Regions from separate parts of the Homo sapiens genome. Here region 2 is reported to be linked to region 1. Evidence: microRNA targets listed by miRTarBase, many of them from high-throughput screens and not tested one by one. Region 1 holds a microRNA gene; the other region holds the end of a gene's coding sequence.
What was found. The annotated mature microRNA hsa-miR-7112-5p reads ACGGGCAGGGCAGUGCACCCUG and lies in region 1 at 3,134-3,155, shown strand. An mRNA with a match to its seed (bases 2 to 7 or 8) in the 3' UTR can be bound and repressed. Matches are read on the target gene's strand: a 7mer-m8 pairs with bases 2 to 8, a 7mer-A1 pairs with bases 2 to 7 and ends in A, and an 8mer does both.

Region 1 (7,114 bases):
CCGTTCCTCTCCAGGGCCACCAGGCCCCTCAGGAAGCACACACATACCCCCATTATCCAATTTGGGGATGGCCCCCTATCTCCATGGGGAGGAGAGGGAAGGACCCTCAGCAGGGGGCAGGGCCCAAGGGGTCCCTCCTGCAGCAGGGGGCCCGGCAGGCTCCCAGCTGTGCTCTGTCTTGCCTGGGCCCCTCCCCGTGGCTACTGTTGCAGGAAGCAGCCTCCTGGGCAGCGGTCCCCAGGCTGGAAGGAGCGAGGGTGGCGGCTGGCAGGGGCTGCAACCAGGAATGTACGTCCAGGAACGTGGCTGTTCTGCCTGGGGAGGGGCCGAGGGCAGACGGTGGGGGGTCCCCCACAGAGAGGTCTTGGCTTCTGCCTCTCTGTGGAATGGGTCAGTTGGGGTCTTCCCCGAGTCCCCGTCTTATAGCTGCCCACTTCTGCCTAAGGCCCCTGCCAGGGGAGGGAGCCCGTGGGTGATGAGGTCATCCCTGTCTGTGGCTGCCCAGAGCCCTGGCCAAGGAATCCAGTGAGGGGGGAGCTCTGGGGTTGGCACCACTTCAGTGGAAAATGTGAAGGTGCAGCTCCGGCGCCTCCGAGGGCGGGGGTGGGGGCAGCGTGGCCGCCATGCCACGTCAGACCCCAGGGCTGGGGAACAGGCGTAGGTCAGGGCCAGTGACCTCAGGGCACTTGAGGCTGGGCCTGCACTCCCCCTGCAACCCCCTCACCTGCTCCCCTGGGCGGCCCGAAGCGGGGGTGGGCCTTGTAGGATCAGATGCCGACATGGTGGCCCCCGGCTGCAGGACATCCGGAACACGGTGGGCAACGTGCCCTTGGAGTGGTACGATGACTTCCCCCACGTGGGCTACGACCTGGATGGCAGGCGCATCTACAAGCCCCTGCGGACCCGGGATGAGCTGGACCAGTTCCTGGACAAGATGGACGATCCTGACTACTGGTGAGGGCTGGTGGGGTGGGGCCAGCAGCCGGGGTGGGCCCGAGGGGTGGGGCAGGGCTGGCGGGGTCTGACTGGCGGTCTCCAGGCGCACCGTGCAGGACCCGATGACAGGGCGGGACCTGAGACTGACGGATGAGCAGGTGGCCCTGGTGCGGCGGCTGCAGAGTGGCCAGTTTGGGGATGTGGGCTTCAACCCCTATGAGGTAGGTGGCAGGGGCTGGCCCCTGGGCGGCGGGGGTCCTGGAGGCACCAGCAGGGCCTCAGCCACTCTGGCCCACACGCCCACATCTTCTCCCCCAGCCGGCTGTCGACTTCTTCAGCGGGGACGTCATGATCCACCCGGTGACCAACCGCCCGGCCGACAAGCGCAGCTTCATCCCCTCCCTGGTGGAGAAGGAGAAGGTGGGGCACACAGCCCCTGGGGCTTGGCCTGGGCTGACCGCCCCGCACTGCCCGTCCTGACCCGGCTGTCTATGCAGGTCTCTCGCATGGTGCACGCCATCAAGATGGGCTGGATCCAGCCTCGCCGGCCCCGAGACCCCACCCCCAGCTTCTATGACCTGTGGGCCCAGGAGGACCCCAACGCCGTGCTCGGGCGCCACAAGATGCACGTACCTGCTCCCAAGCTGGCCCTGCCAGGCCACGCCGAGTCGTACAACCCACCCCCTGAATACCTGCTCAGCGAGGAGGAGGTGGGCCTGCATCCTGGGGGCCGGGACCCTGTCCCCATGCTTCCCTGTGACCCTCCCCACCCCTGTGTCTTGGTCTCCACAGCGCTTGGCGTGGGAACAGCAGGAGCCAGGCGAGAGGAAGCTGAGCTTTTTGCCACGCAAGTTCCCGAGCCTGCGGGCCGTGCCTGCCTACGGACGCTTCATCCAGGAACGCTTCGAGCGCTGCCTTGACCTGTACCTGTGCCCACGGCAGCGCAAGATGAGGGTGTGTGGGGGTGGCACACCAGGGGGGTGGCACAGGGGGCAAGGCTGACCTGGCGCTCTCCTGCCCCAGGTGAATGTAGACCCTGAGGACCTCATCCCCAAGCTGCCTCGGCCGAGGGACCTGCAGCCCTTCCCCACGTGCCAGGCCCTGGTAAGTGGAGACTAGGGGGCTGGGGTTGCACCCTCCCAGTCTGACTCCTCACTGCCGCCGCCTCCTCAGGTCTACAGGGGCCACAGTGACCTTGTCCGGTGCCTCAGTGTCTCTCCTGGGGGCCAGTGGCTGGTTTCAGGTGGGTCCGAGCTGGGGGCAGCCTTGAGCTGGGGGGCAGGTGGGATGGCCAGGTGTTGAGAGCTGTCTCTGCCGCATCCAGGCTCTGACGACGGCTCCCTGCGGCTCTGGGAGGTGGCCACTGCCCGCTGTGTGAGGACTGTTCCCGTGGGGGGCGTGGTGAAGAGTGTGGCCTGGAACCCCAGCCCCGCTGTCTGCCTGGTGGCTGCAGCCGTGTAAGTGGAGGCCCTGGGGGCTGGGGAGCCAGGGGTGGCACTGTGCTTAGGGGCCGTGTCTGGGCCTGGCTCACAGGGAGGACTCGGTGCTGCTGCTGAACCCAGCTCTGGGGGACCGGCTGGTGGCGGGCAGCACAGATCAGCTGTTGAGCGCCTTCGTCCCGCCTGAGGAGCCCCCCTTGCAGCCGGCCCGCTGGCTGGAGGCCTCAGAGGAGGAGCGCCAAGTGGGCCTGCGGCTGCGCATCTGCCACGGGAAGGTACGTGGGGCGCCTTGGGGGTGAGGCTGCAGCGGGAGGGGCCCGGCTCAGCCACTCAGCCAGCCTTGCTCTCCTGCAGCCAGTGACGCAGGTGACCTGGCACGGGCGTGGGGACTACCTGGCCGTGGTGCTGGCCACCCAAGGCCACACCCAGGTGCTGATTCACCAGCTGAGCCGTCGCCGCAGCCAGAGTCCGTTCCGCCGCAGCCACGGACAGGTGCAGCGAGTGGCCTTCCACCCTGCCCGGCCCTTCCTGTTGGTGGCGTCCCAGCGCAGCGTCCGCCTCTACCACCTGCTGCGCCAGGAGCTCACCAAGAAGCTGATGCCCAACTGCAAGTGGGTGTCCAGCCTGGCGGTGCACCCTGCAGGTGAGGGGTGGGGGCGGTGCACCCTGCAGGTGAGGGGTGGGGGGGGGGGCGGTGTACCCTGCAGGTGAGGGGTGGGGGTAGGGGCAGTGCACCCTGCAGGTGAGGGGTGTAGGTGACGGGCAGGGCAGTGCACCCTGCAGGTGAGAGCGGGAACACCTGCATCACAGCCTTTGGCCCTAGGTGACAACGTCATCTGTGGGAGCTACGATAGCAAGCTGGTGTGGTTTGACCTGGATCTTTCCACCAAGCCATACAGGATGCTGAGGTGAGGAAAGCTGGGGGTGGAGGCGGCCAGCAGAGCCCCTCCCTTCAGCCCGAGCCTGCCTTCAACCTGGTTCCCTCCCCCCAGACACCACAAGAAGGCTCTGCGGGCTGTGGCCTTCCACCCGCGGTACCCACTCTTTGCGTCAGGCTCGGACGACGGCAGTGTCATCGTCTGCCATGGCATGGTGTACAAGTGAGTGCTGACCCTGCCTGGCCCCCTCCCCAGGGCAGTGGTGTCTGGCCGTGCCCTGAGCCCTCCTCGTCCCCACAGTGACCTTCTGCAGAACCCCTTGCTGGTGCCCGTCAAGGTGCTGAAGGGACACGTGCTGACCCGAGATCTGGGAGTGCTGGACGTCATCTTCCACCCCACCCAGCCGTGGGTCTTCTCCTCGGGGGCAGACGGGACTGTCCGCCTCTTCACCTAGCTGTTCTGCCTGCCTGGGGCTGGGGTGGTCGTGCTGAAGTCAACAGAGCCTTTACCCTGTGCTGCCTGGTGCTCCCACCTTCTTGAATTGGGGTTGCCAACAAAGCCGCCCCCACCACAGCGCCGAGCCTTCCCCTCACTCAATTTTGCAAAAACAGTGGGGACAACACAGCCAGTCCAGGGCACCCTCTGGCCCATCCCCTAAGAGGCTCAGCATCGCACCCTGTCAGTCACTCGCTGGGAGCAGATGAGTTTATTGGGCACATCCCTCACTGAAGGGCTTGGGTTTGGTCCCCAGCAGTGCCTGTTCTGGGGCCAGGCCCCTCCAGTCGTGTGCCCAGGCTGTGGTCCTCAGGAGGCCCTGTCTTGGAGCTCAGGCACAGGTCTGGGTGCATACTCCTCGCTGGGGGTGCTGGCCGGAGCCTTAGGCGAGCTTCACCAGGCGGCCCAGGGCCTCAGCAGCCCTCGTCCGCACCTCGGGGGCCGGGTCCTTCAGCAGGATCTGGAGCGCTGGGGGTAGAGGAGGGGGGCTGCCTGCGGGCTGTGACCTCGGCATGCCCATGCCTGCGCGTGGGCCACGCTCTCCTGACAGCCTCTGCTGGGAGGCTCAGGAGCCAACGGAAAGATCGTTTTTCCTTTTTTAGTGTTTTTTAAGCTCTTTTGGAACAGTTAAGAAGTTTCCGTGAATTACTAGAGACGATGAGGTCACCAGTGACAGGGAAAAAGTCCTGAAATCCAGGAAAATCACTTAGTCCCTGCGGGTGCCTACAGGGTCAGCAGGGCCCAGCGGAGGGGCCCCGTGGAGGGGTGCTCACCCGCAATGAGCTGGTCCAGGTCCACCTGCGGCTGCTGCCTGGGCTCCGAGTGCAGCACCAGGAACCCTGTGAAGTGGGGGCATCAGGCGGGGCTGCCGGGCGGCGTGGGGGTGGGGCAGGGGGTGGTGCTTACCGGTGAACAGGGGTGCAGCAGCTCGGACGTTCTCCCAGCTGCTCTTGAAGTAGAACAGGCAGGTGGTCAGGAGACGGCCCAGCAGGTCTGGGAAATGGTGCATCTGGGGAGAGGCCTGGTCAGTGCCGCCTGGCCCCGCCCCACCCACCACGCCCCGCCTGGCCCCACCCCTCACCAGGTGCTTGCAGGTGGTGTTGAGGAACTCCCCGAAGTGCAGGGCTCGGCCCTCCTGCAGGTGTTTCTGGAAAGCAGCTGAGAGCTCCTCACATGCCAGATTGGGGCCACACATGCGCAGGGCAAACCTGCAGGCCTAAGGGATGCGGCACTGGGGCCAAGTCCAGTTGAGGCCACCCACCCCATCCCACTCACCCCCTGGCTACTCACGCTGGCCACGGTGGCCTGAGGGTCCTGCAGGTGCAGCAGCAGGGGCGCCAGCCCGCCCACCACCTGGTCCAGGAAGACGTCCTCACAGTCTCCGTGGCAGACCTTGTTAAGGTGCCCAAAGAGGCGGATAGATGCCGTCCGGAACTCCATCTTCTCCTGGGAAGGACATGCAGCATACGTCTCCTCACAGGCTGTGCCCCTGCAGGCCTGCCTGCCTAGCCCCCTGCCATTGATGGGTGCCCTTGCCTGACCCGGGCCAGGAAACACCCCGACGGGTGGGGGCCTTACGGGTGGGGGCTGCCAGGCCCAGCAAAGCAGCAGCCCTGCAGGTCCGCGCTCTCCACGGTCACCTAGCCGAGGTGGGAGACAGGGAGGAGGGTGGGGCTGGGGCTAAAGCTCAGAGTAAGAGGCAGGAAGGGCTGGGGCCCTCTTCCCTCCCCCTGCCCCAACCAGCCTACACTGTCGAAGAAAGGCCGGATGCGGATGGCCACGTGCAGCAGCCCTGAGCGCAGGTCCCAGGACTCCACCAGGTGCACCAGCCTCGCAAGGCCCAGCATGGCCTCCAGGGCCACTGGGCTGTGAGGGTTGTCCCCGTCGTCCAGCCCGCCAATCATGGCTGTGAGGAGCTGGGGGCCGTGGGTTCGCACCTGAGGATACCTTACACTCAGCCTGGGTCCCAGAGTCACCGTCTGCTACCCCACAAGACAGGGTGGCCTCCATGCACAGCCCCCCACCCATGCTGCCTGGGACCCAGAGGGGCTGGTGGCCACCCCACCTTGTCAGGGCAGCCGGAGGCCAGGTTGGCCAGGCCGCGGAGCACCAGCCTCCGCACGCTGGCGCATGTGTCCTTCTGGCGAGCCGCCAGGCTCTCCAGCAGCGAGTCCAAGAGCATGAGGTCGTTGGCCACGTTGCTGTTCAGCAGCTGCAGGCAGAGGTGCTGTGACTTCCCTCTCCCCGCTGACCCCAGGGCTCAACCCACCAGCCCAGGCCCAGAACACCAGAGGCTGTCCCCACGCCGGTGTGGCAGACAGAGGTGGAGCACCTACTCCCTGGGTCTCCGATCAGTGGCGACCCCTCCCTGTTGTGCCGCTGGGGCCTGCTCTGACGCCCGCTGTGCTCTGCTGCACGGCCTTGGGCAAGATTTTGGCATCTTTGGCCACGAAGGCCAAGACCACACCACCAAGGGCACCTGGGGTCCCAGGGGCCAGCCCTGTCCAGCTACAAATGTACCCAGCTGGACTTGGGGAGAGTACAGGCTGCAGGGAGCCTCGGTCCTCCTCTCACCAGGCACAGAGGGGGTGTCCCTGGGTGGGACTGAGTGAGTTCTGGCATGGGGGAGGAGGTAGCTAGCATCCACATAACCTCCCTCACAGACCACGGTCGAGGGGGCCTTTTAGGGGTAAGAAAAGGGCATCCCGTGCCTGTCCTGAGCAGGAGCCCCACCTTGGTGCCCAGCATCCGTCCCTGGAAGGGCCTACCTCGGCCAGGAAGGCGGTGGTGGTCACCCTCTGGTTCTCATACGCACTGCTGTGTGTGCATGCCAGCGTCTTCAGCACCAGGGGGAGTCGGGGCCCTGCGTGCTCAGCCATGGCCCTGGGAAAGGGGGCCGCTGAGGGTGCAGGGGCTGTTGCTGTGCTGAACCCTACCCAGGCACCTTCCACCCTGCACAGCCCTGGTCCGCTCCACCGCCAGCTGCCAGGTTCTGGGAGTTCTATGTTTCAGAGATGCCTCCCAGCTTGCCTCGCCAGGCCTCTGCAGGGGTGCCTCCCTACCCCTGCCCCAGAGAGTGAACAGGCAGGAGCCCAGGGCACCATTGGCCTGACACGCATGGGCCCCCGCCTGATCCTGTCATGTTCTGGGCTCGAGATCCGGTGGAGCCCAGCCAGTGCTGGAGCTGCAGTGGGCTGGGCCCGCTCACCTGGCCAACCTGGTGGCCCCCTCCTCATGCCCCGCCGAGGTCCTGAGCAGTTCCCAGCCTCCCTCCAGGTCCATGCGCTGTACCACATCCTCGCTGCCGCTGCGGAGTAGCATGGACCGCAGGGTGTCCACTGCAGAGCTGCAGGATTGCCAGGGTGC
Region 2 (7,106 bases), not on the chromosome of region 1:
TTTAGGCCAGAATGACTGGTTCAAATAGCAAATCAAGACATTGCCCCAAACATTGGCCAATGAAATCCCTACCTGGATGTGCGTGATGACCAAGGGTGTCCTGTTTTCACCAGGACTGCTCAGCTGGTAGACCTAGAGCCTCTGGTGGTCATCGCTGCCCCCCACTTAGGAAGAGCTGGCCTGAGAATGAAGCCCTTACAGAGGACAGAGAAGGAGGACAGACTTCTCATGACCTCCAGGAGCCCCTGGATCCAGCCATGCCTGAGGTAGATGCACCCTTGGACTTTTTGATTTCAAGAGCCTGCTAGTTCCCTTTCTTGCTTCAGCCAGCTTAAGTTTCTATCATTTCTAATGCAGGGGGGCACCCAGCAGGGAACATGTGCTCAGGTGCTTCTCAGGGTGGTTTTAGCCGGATGCAGCAACGATGGCTGGAACGCCCATCTCTCAAACAGACCCCACGCTGGGCAGAGTGCGTGAGTCTCCCAGCCATGGGGGCAGACTCAAGGGGCTGACGGCATCTACAAGGCGGCTACAGGGGAAATGCTCCTGAGAACATGCTTTCCTCAAAGTTCCCGAGGCCCCAGGGCATTGCTCACTGCCAGCTGCTCACGCCCCTCTGCTCTGTGTCCAGACTCTGGGTATCAGGCCCTGGTGTTGTCCTCAAGGAGTCTCCAGCATGGAGACCACTAGAGGAGTGCTGCAGCATGAAGTAGAGAGTCTGAGTTTGAATCCTGGTCCCACCATGGGTAACGGTGTGTCCTTGAGGGTAGTGACTTTACCTCTCTGCTCCCAGGTTCTCCCCTCTACAATGGGGCTGGTCCTGGTACTGACTTGCAGCCCGGCAGCCTTGTATGCTGCAGAAACCACTCCCCAGCATCCGTGTCCCATTCCCCAAAGGTCTATGGTGCACCTGCCTATGTGCCCAGTGCAGGCTGGCTGGAGGCTCTGCTCCAGGACTAGAGGCTCAGCCTGGATATGACCCAAGTCACTTCCACCGACAACTCCATGACTGTTGTCCTCAGAAAGAACACATCTGCCCCCAAAGCTCCACCATCAGGGCTGATGGCTCTCCAGGAAGGCCCCAAAGGGGTGCCACGGGCCACGGGCCCTGGGGATACCTGCAGGAGCCTCTTGGTCTCCAGCCTCCTCTGGCCTTGTCCCGCGACTGCCAGACGCGCGAATCAGAGCCCACCCTCCTCGCTCCCCAAGGCACAGCACCTCCTGCACCTCCCTGCACAGAGCTGACCTGGCCTCTTCCATTGCTCTGGACACAGGGAATGCTCTCTCCGATGTCACCTCAGCTGGCTCCTTGTTTCTCAAGCCTCGATTCCTCCATCCCTCCTCAGGCCTTCCCTGCCCACTTGGCCAGGTGGGCACCCTCCCATGCCACCAGTTTTCTTCAGGGCAAGACACCATCTATAGTCACTGTATCAGGTTTTAGCCTGGCCTGTTACTTTTTATTTCTGCTCAGAGCCTGTGTTTGCTCTTGAGCTGTGGCTGCTCTGGGGTCCAGGTGGGAAGTCTGAAGTCACCTCTGGATCTGCTCTGGGTGGAGGGTGCCTCCATCCCACCCAGGCCCACAGGCTGGCCTCGCCCTTGCTCTGCAGCAAGCCCATCCAGGTGCCCTGCTCAGAGCCACCAGCATTAATAGCTGATGGTTTAATACCCTCAGGAGCCAGCGCACTCAAGCAGCAATCAGAAGGCCCCATCACCGCTGCTGTGTAATTGCGCCCGATCACTCGCACAGCGAGCGCTGATTGCGGCTCAGAGATGGCTCAGCTTCCAGGCTGATGGGCTGGAGCCCTTGGAGGCCTAATGAGGGTAATTGAGGATGGGCTGATTGTGCCGGAAAAAAGCTGAAGGGGACTGAGCCATGAGAACAGGCTGCGTCACACCCTAAACGGGACCACATTTGCTAAATTTGTTTCCGACACAATTTCGTGGTGATTACACTGATTTCTCTTGAGTTACTGAGCCTGGCACAGAGCTTGTGCTTGCAGCCCCACTGTCAAGATGCGCCTGTTTGAGAGTGGGAGGTATTGTTGATGACTTATGGGCCACTGTCAGCCCTGGGAACGAGTTCATGGAGAGGCTGGTGGGAGACAGGTGGGAGCTTGGGGGCGGTGGGGAGGGCCTGGGGTCCCAAGGGCCTACGTTTGGGCGGGCTGCTGCTTACCACCATGTGGCTGGGACACATTGTGCAACCTCTGTGTGCCTCAATTCCTCAGCTGCAGGTGCAGCTGCCCCTAACCTCCCAGGGTTGCCGGGAAGTCCCAGTGAGTTCACTTACAGGCAGTGCTCAGACGGTCCAGGTTGGGGTCTGCCTGGAGGCGCAGCTGCAGAGCAGGTGCCCAGGGCCCTTGGGGATGTGTCACACCTGACCCTGCACCCACCCTCTGCGGCAGGAGCAGCCACCCCTGTTGAGCCATGGATGAAATGAGCCCAGGGACGGGGCCACTGACCAAAGCCATGCACTGGCAGAAGCTGCATCCACACCTCCATCATTAGTATCTGTACACATTTTCATGAGATGAAGCAGCATAGCCTGTCTCTGCTGGAAAGACCAACATTTCTCAAACCCGGTTCCTTGGCTGCGAGTCTGGGAAACACAATTCCAGCCTTGGCTACTGAAGGCAGGGGGCCCAGGACTGCAGCCTCAGCTCCCCCAGGCTGTCGCTCATGGGCCCCTCGGGGTCAGAATCTGATTTTAGTTAACAAGGCACCCAGGAATTCCTGCCTCACGGCATGGGCTGGAAGCCACTGCTCTGAGCTAGGGGTCACGGGAGAATCGCCTGGGAAGCATCTAAAAGTGACCACCGCTCAGACCCCTGAAGCTCCAAGGCTCCAGTGGGGGTCAGGCACTGGTGTTTTAGTCTCCGCCAAGGGCTCCAATGTGTCACCTGGGCTGAGCGCACCCAACTCACAGAGTGTGGCCATCTGTCCTGGGTGTGGCTGAGTCTCCCAGGGAGATATGCTTCCGTGTTTGGGATGTGGCTGCACTCCTGCGGCCGCCCCTGCTTCCCAGCAAGGAAAACCTGGAGCCAAGAGCTTTTAGCAAAAATGTTTAATCTCTCCTTAATGTGTGTGTTTATTTACAAGTACTAAATCTGAAGAACAGTAAAATAGGAAATAGCCGTATATGTACACATCTGAGGGCCGGGCCCACAGTCAGCGGTGCTGCTTCTGCAAAGAGCCCGGCTGAGGGTGCCCGCCCGGACCGTCCGAGGGATCGCTCTTCTTCTGGGAGGGGGTTCTGCGGTGTTAAAGGACAGCTAATTGTGGGCTTTGTCTTAAAAATATCTCTCTCTCTAAATATATCTATTCTAGCTGTGTAGCACCAACGTGAGCCACTGAATCCAGACAGGGAGAAAGCCAGGGCGGAGGCTCTCAGCAAGGCCGAGCCGAGATGGCACGCCGCTCCGGGCTCTCTCCCGGACTCGACGCTGCAGGTCGTGGGGCCCCCAGCCCCTCAGGCCAAGGGGCCAGTGGTCCTGGGGCTGGGGAGCACAGGGGAAGCTCGAGGTATATCAAGAGGCCAGGCTCCCAGGCCGAGGCGTGAGCTTTTCCAGCACTCCTGAGCCAGGCGCGGGGAGAGGGAGGACACGGAGCAGGGTAGGAGGTGCTGCAGGAAGCAAGTGGCGGCAGCAGCACGCCAGGTGGGTGCCAGTTTCACAGCACATGTGCCGCAGCCCTGGCTCCCTGCAGACACAGGGCCCATGGGAGCCGCTCACCGCTGCTGGGCACAGAACGGCCTCCAACTGCAGCTCCTACCAGGGCCTCCAGCCCCAGGCCAGAGCTCCCAGGTGCTGCACAGTTAGGAGCACAGTGGGAACCAGTGACAAGTAGGGACTGGGGCCTAACTCCACGACCTGGCAGAGGGAGGTACGGAGTAGCTCGGAGACTGCTGTCCCAGTAGACAGCACAGGTAGTCGGCTTGATCCTTGCGCATGTAAACAGATACTGCTAAAGTGCTTGCGCCTAGACACAGCCATGTGCTCTGTGGTGGCCACGCCCCAGCCACACGCCCATGTGGGAACTGCTTCATGAGGCCTGTGGTGCACCCCCTTCATCACCACTGCCGTCCCCACCACCCGCCCATGCTACTCACATGGACAAGGGCAGCCTGGCAGGGCAGAGCAGAGCACAAGGCCTAAGGAGAGTGGGGGTTGGAACTGGATTCTGAAGGTGATGCAGGAGCCCCTACCTAACCCGTGAGGAACTGGAAGAACCAGGGACTTCAACCTGAAGCCAGCATCCAGGGAAGACTTTGGGGGAAACTGAGGTTCCCACCCCACCATAGCCAGGAAACATCAGAAGGGAGGTGGAGGCGCACCCAGGAACAGGAATCCCAGCCAATGCTAGGGGCTACTGAAAAAAACAGCCCAGCCACTGTAATATGGACTGGCCTCAGCTCTGGCCCCCAAGACTGCCCAGGGAGTAAGCCCACCCCCTCAGTGGGCTGGGGGCAGGGGCTGGCCCAGGCCTGAGCTGGGTGTGGCAGCAGCAGAAGGCCCCAGCCCTGGCACAGTGCCCACGGGGCCAAGGAGCTCCCTGAGTCAGCAGTCACTGACTCCACACCGACCCGCGTTCAGGGAAGAGGCGGGTCTCTGTGGCGTCATCTGGCTCACGCTACTCAGCTGGGGCGGACTGCAAGACTGGCACACCCCATGGGGCCGAGTCCTCTCCTTGGGCCTGGCCAAGGACATGGGGCTGAGTCTGGCCACAGTTAGCTGTCCCTTAATGTCCATGGGATCTTCGGTACCATCAAAAAAGTGACCTTGAAAAGGGGATGGACCGCTTGTTTGCTTTTACAAGTGACTGATTAATTAAAAAACATAAAAAAGGGTCTAACAACCTCTAGTATTCAACACTTGCAGTTTTAAAAAGATCAACTCAGACTAAACGCTAGCACAATCATGCATGCCCCGTGGTGCCGCGGCACCCCAGAGGCTCTCAGGGTCAGCAGGAAGTCCTTTCCTTGTCATGTCAAACCAAAACAGCGGCCCGCAGGTCGGGGGGCACAGGCTTCAGGGCTGCTCCACTCCAGGGAGGCTCCGGCCACTTTCTCCACAACCATTTGGCATTGCTTTCCCACTGCCTTCATTTTCTTGTTCAAATCGTCTTTAAAATTCTTCTTCAGTTAACTGTACAGTACCCCACTGGGGCTGGAGCCTGAGGCTAGAGCCACATATATATATATGCATATATATACATGTACAGCTTTCTTTTAAGAATGCATTCTCTCTTGCTGAGGGCAAGGGTGGACACCGCTGGCCTCCAGTCCCTCTGGTCACTGCCCGTCACTCATGGCCCAGATAGATCCAGGCCACTGCGGGCCAGAGGAGCCCTGCCACAGACCTCAAGGCCCAAGCAGAGTGCAGCAGAATTTTTTCCCCTAAACACAAAAACAGTCCCCAGATGTCCCACTGCTCTGGAGGGGCCAGGACACTGCTGAGATGCCACACTGGAAGCCGCTGGGGCAGGGACAGAGAGAGTGGAGAGAGAGGAGTGCTCAGGGGCCGCCCTCAGGGGCTCCAGGGTGGGGAGCTCAGCCTACCCTTGAAGACAGCTGCCAGGGCAGCCTGTGTAGGACGCGGAGGGGAATAAATAACGGGAACGTGCTCTCTGCGACCCGGGGCCCCTGGCCCAGTGGCTCCCAGAGGCACAGCCCTGAGGACGGAGAGGGGCTGCCCGGTCCGTCTGGAAGCCACCCAGGAGTCTGAGCAGCCTGGCCCACAGCCCCTCCATAGGAGGGAGCAGAGCCTCTCTGGGGCGAGGTGGATGTGGTGCTCCGGCCTCGGCCGCGCAGAGCACGCGGTGAATCTGAGGATGGCAGCGGTGCAGCGGGCATGGGTGCTGGAGGTGGGAGTCGGTGGCAACGGGCCCAGACCGACTTGAGCTCCTCTTGCCCGGCTACGGGCTTTTTGCCTCTTTCTCCAGCTGCCAACCGGGCCCCGGGACCCTCAGACTCTGCCGCCTGGGGGCAGCTTGGAAAGCTGGGAATGCTGACACCCCCAGCCTCTTGTCCTGGTCTCAAGGGGACAGCCCAAGCTGGCTACCCCTCCCCCTGGAGGGCCCTGGCCTCACCCCTCAGCCCCTCAGAGGTCAGCCCTTCTCCCATGAAGGCCACTGGGCAGCTCTTGCCAGGCAATGAAGGTCCTTGGCCAGCCTGAGCACCCAGTGCTGTCCCGGCCCCTGAGCAAGCAGCTGTGTGCGCAGCTGTGGTGTGGCAGGTACCATCACCTCCACACAGGAAGAGCCGGGACCCGACCGGGTGAGGCAGGGGAGGGAGGGCCGGGCAGTCGCTGCACTGCGGCGGCCCGAGCACCACCGGACACTCCACACGCATGCGGTGAGGGCTGTCCCGGTCCCTGCTCAGCTGTCCTCACGCTGCATCATGCTGGATGATCACAGCTGGGGCTCAGCTGCTCAGGGCCATCGTGTCCACCACCTGCTCCAGCTTGCTCCGCAGCCGCTGCCGCCGCGCCTGCTCATCCTTCTCCAGGGCTGCCAGGATCTGCAGGGCCAGGAGAACTGTCAGCATGCCGGGCCACCAGCCTCCATGCACTCAGCAGGCCCAGGGCAGATGCCTCCAGAGTAGGTGCCAGAGGTTCAACCCCATCTACCCCTGGCCAAAGGACCTTGGTTGTGAGCCTGGACCCTCCAGGACCCCAATATGGAGAATGAGCCCTGCCCCTGTCATCATCCTACTCTCACCCCCTAAAACAGCAGGCTCTGATCCCTTGGCTGCCTGGCCATGCTGCTGACATGTCCCCACCCAGTCCTCACACCCTGGGGTTTCTGTGCCCCTTTAAAGCAGAGCTCCCCAGAGAGCCTCAGCTCCCCTTTCCCTGGTGAGCCCCAGGACCCCAGGCTTTTGTCCCCACTCCCCACCCTAATACATGCAGTCTCTGGCTGCTCCTCTGCTCCCCTGGGGCACCTGCCTGAGGACAGCCCTCTGCCTCCTGTCTGCCTCCTGTGGCACCCTGGGGAAGGTTCCTTGCCTCTGCTGCACCTGCCCTGGCCTCCCCAGGGTGGCTCTGGTTCACTCCCGTGGCCTTCTTAGCCCTCAGAGCCTTGGCACAGGCCGAGACTGTCCTGCCCTC

Region 2: the mRNA of PLXNA1 is a reported target of hsa-miR-7112-5p. Seed matches in the 3' UTR shown: 7mer-m8 at 6,296-6,302.

The regions. Positions count from the first base shown.
Region 1 is chr8:144,258,757-144,265,870 of GRCh38, reverse strand. It overlaps MIR7112 (microRNA 7112), which reads left to right and starts at 3,134; the gene lies at 3,134-3,198. It overlaps MROH1 (maestro heat like repeat family member 1), which reads right to left. Exons shown (of 44, transcript NM_032450.3): 36 at 6,957-7,094; 37 at 6,517-6,631; 38 at 5,814-5,960; 39 at 5,497-5,685; 40 at 5,039-5,194; 41 at 4,830-4,964; 42 at 4,655-4,757; 43 at 4,522-4,587; 44 at 3,945-4,216. The coding sequence ends at 4,131. BOP1 (BOP1 ribosomal biogenesis factor) reads left to right here. Exons shown (of 16, transcript NM_015201.5): 4 at 800-954; 5 at 1,040-1,157; 6 at 1,255-1,356; 7 at 1,434-1,646; 8 at 1,729-1,890; 9 at 1,960-2,040; 10 at 2,110-2,179; 11 at 2,261-2,393; 12 at 2,470-2,650; 13 at 2,730-3,018; 14 at 3,199-3,283; 15 at 3,368-3,475; 16 at 3,554-3,826. The coding sequence ends at 3,707.
Region 2 is chr3:127,033,333-127,040,438 of GRCh38, reverse strand. It overlaps PLXNA1 (plexin A1), which reads right to left. Exons shown (of 32, transcript NM_032242.4): 32 at 3,050-6,517. The coding sequence ends at 6,422. Among named protein-coding and RNA genes, the nearest start is that of PLXNA1, 54 kb to the right of the region's middle.